Homo sapiens: one gene and its partner. The protein of the gene in region 1 interacts with the protein of each later gene in a pairwise test. Each region holds a gene or a part of one and is shown on either strand. Other genes may lie near its edges.

The links. The genes of interacting proteins can lie anywhere in the genome.
Region 2: the proteins of TNS2 (region 1) and ZNF250 interact in binary tests that used the Homo sapiens proteins (3 or more experiments, as listed by UniProt).

Annotation. Positions count from the first base shown.
Region 1 is NC_000012.12:53,059,918-53,063,664, forward strand, and holds part of TNS2 (tensin-2), read left to right. Parts: coding exon 1-341; intron 342-487; coding exon 488-638; intron 639-757; coding exon 758-1,347; intron 1,348-1,462; coding exon 1,463-1,552; intron 1,553-1,897; coding exon 1,898-2,023; intron 2,024-2,235; coding exon 2,236-2,328; intron 2,329-2,458; coding exon 2,459-2,536; intron 2,537-2,702; coding exon 2,703-2,780; intron 2,781-3,171; coding exon 3,172-3,340; intron 3,341-3,431; coding exon 3,432-3,500; intron 3,501-3,645; coding exon 3,646-3,675; intron 3,676-3,747. UniProt on the Homo sapiens protein: Tyrosine-protein phosphatase which regulates cell motility, proliferation and muscle-response to insulin. Phosphatase activity is mediated by binding to phosphatidylinositol-3,4,5-triphosphate (PtdIns(3,4,5)P3) via the SH2 domain.
Region 2 is NC_000008.11:144,894,826-144,898,572, reverse strand, and holds part of ZNF250 (zinc finger protein 250), read left to right. Parts: intron 1-3,340; exon of another isoform or gene 3,341-3,430; intron 3,431-3,747. UniProt on the Homo sapiens protein: May be involved in transcriptional regulation.

The DNA.
Region 1 (3,747 bases):
GGCAGGCGAGGAAGGGCACGAGGGCTGCTCCTACACCATGTGCCCCGAAGGCAGGTATGGGCATCCAGGGTACCCTGCCCTGGTGACATACAGCTATGGAGGAGCAGTTCCCAGTTACTGCCCAGCATATGGCCGTGTGCCTCATAGCTGTGGCTCTCCAGGAGAGGGCAGAGGGTATCCCAGCCCTGGTGCCCACTCCCCACGGGCTGGCTCCATTTCCCCGGGCAGCCCGCCCTATCCACAATCTAGGAAGCTGAGCTACGAGATCCCTACGGAGGAGGGAGGGGACAGGTACCCATTGCCTGGGCACCTGGCCTCAGCAGGACCTTTGGCATCTGCAGGTGAGGGGCACCAGAGTGCGGAGTGCCCAGGGCAGAGGAGGTTCTGGAAGATGGTGGGGAAGTCAAGGGGGAACAGGGTGAGAAACAGCTAAGCCAGACAGAAGAGCCCCATCCTGCTCACAGCCCACCTCTCCCCTTCACTGCAGAGTCGCTGGAGCCGGTGTCCTGGAGGGAGGGCCCCAGTGGGCACAGCACACTGCCTCGGTCTCCCCGAGATGCCCCATGCAGTGCTTCGTCAGAGTTGTCTGGTCCCTCCACGCCCCTGCACACCAGCAGTCCAGTCCAGGGCAAGGAAAGGTATGCAGAGGGGCCGGGGATGCTCGAGTGCTTTCTTGTCCAAGCAGTTGATGAAGGCAGGTGGGGTGGGAGCAGCCACAATGGGGGCTCTGCTGACCATCTGCCCTTCCACCCTACAGCACCCGGCGACAGGACACCAGGTCCCCCACCTCAGCGCCCACTCAGAGACTGAGTCCTGGCGAGGCCTTGCCCCCTGTTTCCCAGGCAGGCACCGGAAAGGCCCCTGAGCTGCCGTCGGGAAGTGGGCCTGAGCCTCTGGCCCCTAGCCCAGTCTCTCCGACCTTCCCTCCCAGCTCGCCCAGTGACTGGCCTCAGGAAAGGAGTCCAGGGGGCCACTCAGATGGCGCCAGTCCTCGGAGCCCTGTGCCCACCACACTTCCTGGCCTCCGCCACGCCCCCTGGCAAGGCCCTCGAGGCCCCCCCGACAGCCCAGATGGGTCTCCCCTCACTCCTGTGCCTTCCCAGATGCCCTGGCTTGTGGCCAGCCCAGAGCCGCCTCAGAGCTCACCTACACCTGCTTTCCCCCTGGCTGCCTCCTATGACACCAATGGCCTTAGCCAGCCCCCACTTCCTGAGAAACGCCACCTGCCCGGGCCGGGGCAACAGCCAGGACCCTGGGGCCCAGAGCAGGCATCATCGCCAGCCAGAGGCATCAGTCACCATGTCACCTTCGCACCTCTGCTCTCAGATAATGTCCCCCAAACCCCAGGTATAAAGGCCTTGAGGGGGTTGGTGCCACCTTGAGAGAACCCTTTCTCCTGGGATGTAGCATGGATGGGGACCCGGGTACCCTGGGGTCTGAACCTACTCCCTCCCTGTCCTAGAGCCTCCTACACAAGAGAGCCAAAGCAATGTCAAGTTTGTCCAGGATACATCCAAGTTCTGGTACAAGCCACACCTGTCCCGTGACCAAGGTGAGAAGCCAGCCTGCCCCCACCCCACTGCATCCCACCTTCCAGGGTGTCTGTCTTGGCTTTAAGTCCCATCCTGTTGAAGCTCTTGGCTCCTCCTGTCTGAGCTGTGTTTACTCTTGGCTGAGTGTTTACCAGCAGGTGATTCTGGGCTTTGGGCCAAGGCGGTGAGATCCAACATGGTCAAAACCCCTGTGAACTCTAGAGCCCTGGCCTCAGACTCTTACCGCCACCACAGCTGTCAGGGCAGAGACCATGGAGCTTGGCAGCAGAGGAGGGGGGCTGCATGGGGCTCAGTCCACCCCTGTGAAAACTCCTCCCCACTGCCCGCTACCCCTCACCCTGCAGCCATTGCCCTGCTGAAGGACAAGGACCCTGGGGCCTTCCTGATCAGGGACAGTCATTCATTCCAAGGAGCTTATGGGCTGGCCCTCAAGGTGGCCACACCGCCACCCAGTGCCCAGCCCTGGAAAGGTACAGAACACCCAAACCTGAGTGGGGTGGGGATGAAGTTGGGGGTGGTGCCAGAGGCAAGGTAACAGGGCAGGTGGGGGTGCTGTGCTGGCCATGCCGCTGTAGAGGGGAGAGGTAGGAAAAGACCTCAGCTGCTCGGGAAAGAATCCCATTAGGGAAGAAGCTGGAACCTGGAATCCTAAAGCCGCAATCTTCCCCTCGCCTCCTCTCAGGGGACCCCGTGGAACAGCTGGTCCGCCATTTCCTCATCGAGACTGGGCCCAAAGGGGTGAAGATCAAGGGCTGCCCCAGTGAGCCCTACTTTGGTGAGAAGCAGGAGCCTGGGGAAGGCTACGTTGGGTCGGTTTAGGGAGATGCCAAGGGATCTCAGGAGGATGGAAGGGAAAGGCGGGGCACCCTGGGCATCTCGGGACTTTCCTACCTCCTCTCCCACAGGCAGCCTGTCCGCCTTGGTCTCCCAGCACTCCATCTCCCCCATCTCCCTGCCCTGCTGCCTGCGCATTCCCAGCAAAGGTGAGTGTCTGGTCATCTGTCCTCCCCACCTCTCCCTACCCCCTGCAGCCAAAGCAGGATCCAGAGGTCTTGGCTCCCCGCCTTCCCTTGGGGAAGCAGAGGGAGTGCTCCAGCCTGGGGAACACTCTGCCTTCTGAGCTTCCCTGTCGGTTCTCATTGCCCTCAGATCCTCTGGAAGAGACCCCAGAGGCTCCAGTGCCCACCAACATGAGCACAGCGGCAGACCTCCTGCGTCAGGGTGCTGGTAGAGACTTCCCCTCCACTCCCCTCCCTCTCCCTGGGCACCAAGGGGGCATTGTGGATACAGGGCATGGGGCACTGAAAGGCCTTGAGGTGGGTGAGCCCTGGCCAACCCATGAGGGCAGGGGAGCCCCATACTGTCGGGGATGAGGAATTGGGTCCTCAGCCTAGGTTCTCAAAGTCTCATGAACAAGACGATCATGGGGTGGTAGCAGGGAGGCTTCTCTGCCTCGCTTCTGACTGTAGATCCAGTAGAGTCATGGAATCTGCCTTTTTAACAAGTCACCTATGTGATTGTAAAGCATGTGACAGCAGTAGCTGGGGAATGTGCAAGAGCTGGTGGGGGTGGCTAGGGGATGGGCACTCCCTCCCTGACCCACTCCCTGCCCCTGTAGCCTGCAGCGTGCTCTACTTGACCTCAGTGGAGACAGAGTCACTGACGGGCCCCCAAGCTGTGGCCCGGGCCAGCTCTGCAGCTCTGAGCTGTAGCCCCCGCCCGACACCAGCTGTTGTCCACTTCAAGGTGTCAGCCCAGGGCATTACACTGACGGACAACCAAAGGAAGTATGTATACTCAGCCCTGTAGAACCCCATGCTTAAGGCCCCTGGGGGCTCATGTTTCTGAGTGTGACCTTCCTCACCCTCCTCCTTGCAGGCTCTTCTTTCGCCGCCATTATCCAGTGAACAGCATCACCTTCTCCAGCACTGACCCTCAAGACCGGAGGTGACTCTCCCTCCAAACCCTTTGCCCCAAATCCCCATGGTCCCACCAGGTCCCAGCTCCCAGCCCCAGCCCCAGCCCCGGCCCCGGCCCCCCTTCAGCAGCTGTCCCCTGGGGTGTGCATCTTCACCTTCTTCTCCTTCTGCAGATGGACCAACCCAGACGGGACCACCTCCAAGTAAGCCTCCCCACGAATTCAGCCTCTTCCTTCCAAGGGACCAGGGCGCTGCTGTCCTCTCAATGCTGGCAT
Region 2 (3,747 bases), on another chromosome or scaffold:
TTTGTTCCTGTGCTTTTGAGGTCTTACCCAAAAAATGTTTTCCCACATGAGTGTCCTCAAGTGTTTCCTTGATGTTTTACAGTTTTCTTTATAGGGACTCTGCATTTCTAAGGTTTAATCTTGTTTCTTGTTGCTATTTGTTGAATAGATTTTTTTCCATTCATATTTTCTGATTAGGTGTTACTGGTATATAAGAAAGCTATCAGTTTGGTTGTTTTTTTGTTTTGTTTTGTTTTGTTTTGTTTTGTTTGTTTGTTTATTTGCTTTTTTTCTTTTGAGATGGAGTCTCACTCTGTTGCCCAGGCTGGAGTGCAATGGCGCGATCTTGGCTCACTGCAAACTCCACCTCCCAGGTTCAAGCAATTCTCATGCCTCAGCCTTGGGAGGAGCTGGAATTACAGGCACGTGCCACCACACCCAGCTAATTTTTGTATTTTTAGAAGAGACGGGGTTTCACCATGTCACCCAGGCTGGTCTTGAACTCCTGACTGTTGGGATCAGGCCCCCCCAAAATCTGGCTATAAACTGGCCCCAAAACCGGCCATAAACAAAATCTCTGTAGCACCGTGAAATGTTCATGATGGCCATAATGCCCACGCTGGAAGGTTGTGGTTGTGGGTTTACCGGAATGAGGGCAAGGAACACCTGGCCGGCCCAGGGTGGAAAACCCCTTAAAGGCATTCTTAAGCCACAAACAATAGCATGAGCGATCTGTGCCTTAAGGACATGCTCCTGCTACAGTTAACTAGCCCAACCTATTCCTTTAATTCGGCCCATCCCTTCGTTTCCCATAAGGGATACTTTTAGTTAAATTAATATCTATAGAAACAATGCTAATGACTGGCTTGCTGTTAATAAATACGTGGGTAAATCTCTGTTCAGGGCTCTCAGCTCTGAAGGCTGTGAGACCCCTGATTTCCCACTTCACACCTCTATATTTCTGTGTGTGTGTCTTTAATTCCTCTAGCGCCGCTGGGTTAGGGTCTCCCCGACCGAGCTGGTCTCAGCACCTGACCTCAGGTGATCCACCCACCTTGGCCTCCCAAAGTGCTGGGATTACAGGCATGAGCCACTGTGCCCGACCAGAAAGCTATCAATTTGGATACATATTTCTGATCATTAATTCTGGAAAGGTTGCAGGTTAGGGTTAGTTTAGGTTAGTTAGGGTTAGTTTAGATTAGGTCAAGTTTAGCAGTGTTTCGCCTTGTGCTCACAAGTGGCTCAGAAGCTGCCTCTCTTGAAAGTGCTTTCACCCTAGCGGGTAGGGGCTCCTTGGTGATGAAGAGGGAGCAGTGCTTGTTAGCAGAAAGTCCAGGGAGTGAGGATGATGAGGAGCAGGAGAAGGCAGTGGCCCTGGAGGAGATCCTGGAAGCTCATCCCAGATCAGGAGACTCCAAATGTGCCTGTCCCAGTGTGTGACCATGTGCAGGGTCCTCTGGAATGACAGGCACACTGCTTTGTCACATCAAGACAGTCAGGAATTCCAAAAAGAGTGATAGGAATGTCTCACTGCGATGTGGCTTTTGATCACCTAAAGAAAACTGGAAAGCCAGTTGCTGCTAATAACGTTGATCTATTGTTTTTGTTTTGGATTATTCCTTAGGGAAATTTTCAAGATTGAAATTCCTGAGTTTGAAAAATTAGCTCCTTATGCTGCCACCTTTGTAACCAGTGGGTGGGAGGGATCATTGCTCAGCCAGTGCCCTGAGTGGGTGTTCTTTATATTGCCCATTTGTTAGCTGTTGGCATGGCCTCAAGAGGGGGCTCCTCAAACTCCACTTCCAGTATTCTGTGGCGGTGATCTCCAGCCTGTCCCAGCCCCTGGCCCTGGAGCCTGGCATCTATAGAGGACTCGTCATTAGCCTGTCTTAATTTTTTAAAACTGTCCACATCATCCTCCTTCCCTGCCTGAACTGTGTTCTCATGGAGCAAAGCTTGGAGTTGGACGTCAGAATCCCGTGAAGTGTGGATGGAGTGTGTTGTTAAAAGCCAGTTTCTGGCACCCCCGATAGCTCTTACATTTTCCTGTCTTGAGTATGCAAGGTTTAGGTTGAGGTCCATGGTGTTTGCCTGGCCTGGTATCCTGTTACAGGCTCGTTCCAGGAAACTGAAACCTTTATCTGCCATAGTGTAAGTAAGGAAAAAATTTAAACTAGTTAATACCACTTTTAAAATGTATTTTGTTCATATTTTTTTTTAATTTTTATTTATTTATTTATTTATTTTGAGACAGGGATTCATTCTGTTGCCCAGGGTGGAGTGTAGTGGTGCAGTTACAGCTTACTGCAGCCTTGACCTCCTGGGCTCAAGCAATCTTCCCATCTCAGCCTCCAGAGTACCTAGGTCTACAAACCAGCTAATTTTTTAAATTTTTTTATAGAGACGGGGTCTCACTATATTGTCCAGGGTGTTCTTGAACTCCTGAACTCAAGCAATTCTCCCACCTTGGCCTCCCAAAGTACTGGGATTATAGGTGTGAGTCACCATGCCCAGCCATTTTTGTTCATTTATTACCAGAATACAATCAGACTTTGTGATAGGATTTTTTTTTTTTTTTTTTTTTTGAGACAGAGTCTTGCTCTGTTATGCAGGCTGGAGTGCAGTGGCACAATCTTGGCTCACTGCAACCTCTGTCTCCCAGGTTCAAGCTATTTTCTTGCCTCAGCCTCCTGAGTAGCTGGGATTACAGGTGCCTGCCACCATGCCTGACTAACTTTTTGTATTTTTAGTAGAGACGGGGTTTCACTATGTTGGCCAGGCTGGTCTCGAACTCCTGACCTTTTGATCCGCCCGCCTCGGCCTCCCAAAGTGCTGGGATTACAGGTATGAGCCACTGCGCCTGGCCGATTTTTTTTTTAATTAGCAATATGTGATGGTCATCTTTCAATAGAGACCTGATACTGCATTTTGTGTGATGCTTTTCTAAGACTCACCCCAGGTGGCAGTCTTTCCCTTTCACTTCTCCTTGCCACACACTTGTTGACAGCCTGGTATTGTCCTTTGGAGTATTTCCTCTGTGTGTTAATCAAATAGATAATAACACCTTATCCAGCAGCATCCTCCTCTGAGCCAAGCCTGTTCTTAGCGCTCTCCTCTCACCAACCACATGATCTCCAGGCCTTCAGAGGAGTGTGTCATCTGGATTTATAGGTGGGGCCTCAATGCAGCTGGCCCAAGTGAGGCAGGTGAACCAGTCCCAGGTCCTTGTGACACACATACCCTTCATGGGCTCGGGGTCATAGTTTACAAAATGAGATTTTCCCCTGCATGCTGGCCCCATGCTGCATTTTCACTCACCCATCTGGTGACCTGACACAACATACATCTTTCTCTTTAGCAGGTGTGTAACTTGTATGTGGAAGGACCAACGTAGCATTTGCCTCAGCAACATCCTTGAATCTGCACCCTCACCCACATCCATTCTTATCAGGTACCCACTATCCAAGGGCCAGTCTGATTTGCCTAAATACTGCTAGGTCGCCTTCTTAAGAGTATGAGAAACTCCACTTTCCCATGCCTGCCAGTTTAAAGTGTTGACTCCGTACTTGGCTATTACAGATGGCATAAAGTGTGAGCTCATTCCTCTTCATTCATTTATTCAACAAACAGGCCGGGTGTGGTGTTCTCAGGCCTGTAATCTTGACACTTTCGGAGGCCAAGGAGGGAGGATCCCTTGAGCCTAGGAGTTCAAGACCAGTCTGGGCAACACAGCAAGACCTCGTCTCTACCAAAAAAAAAAAATTAAGA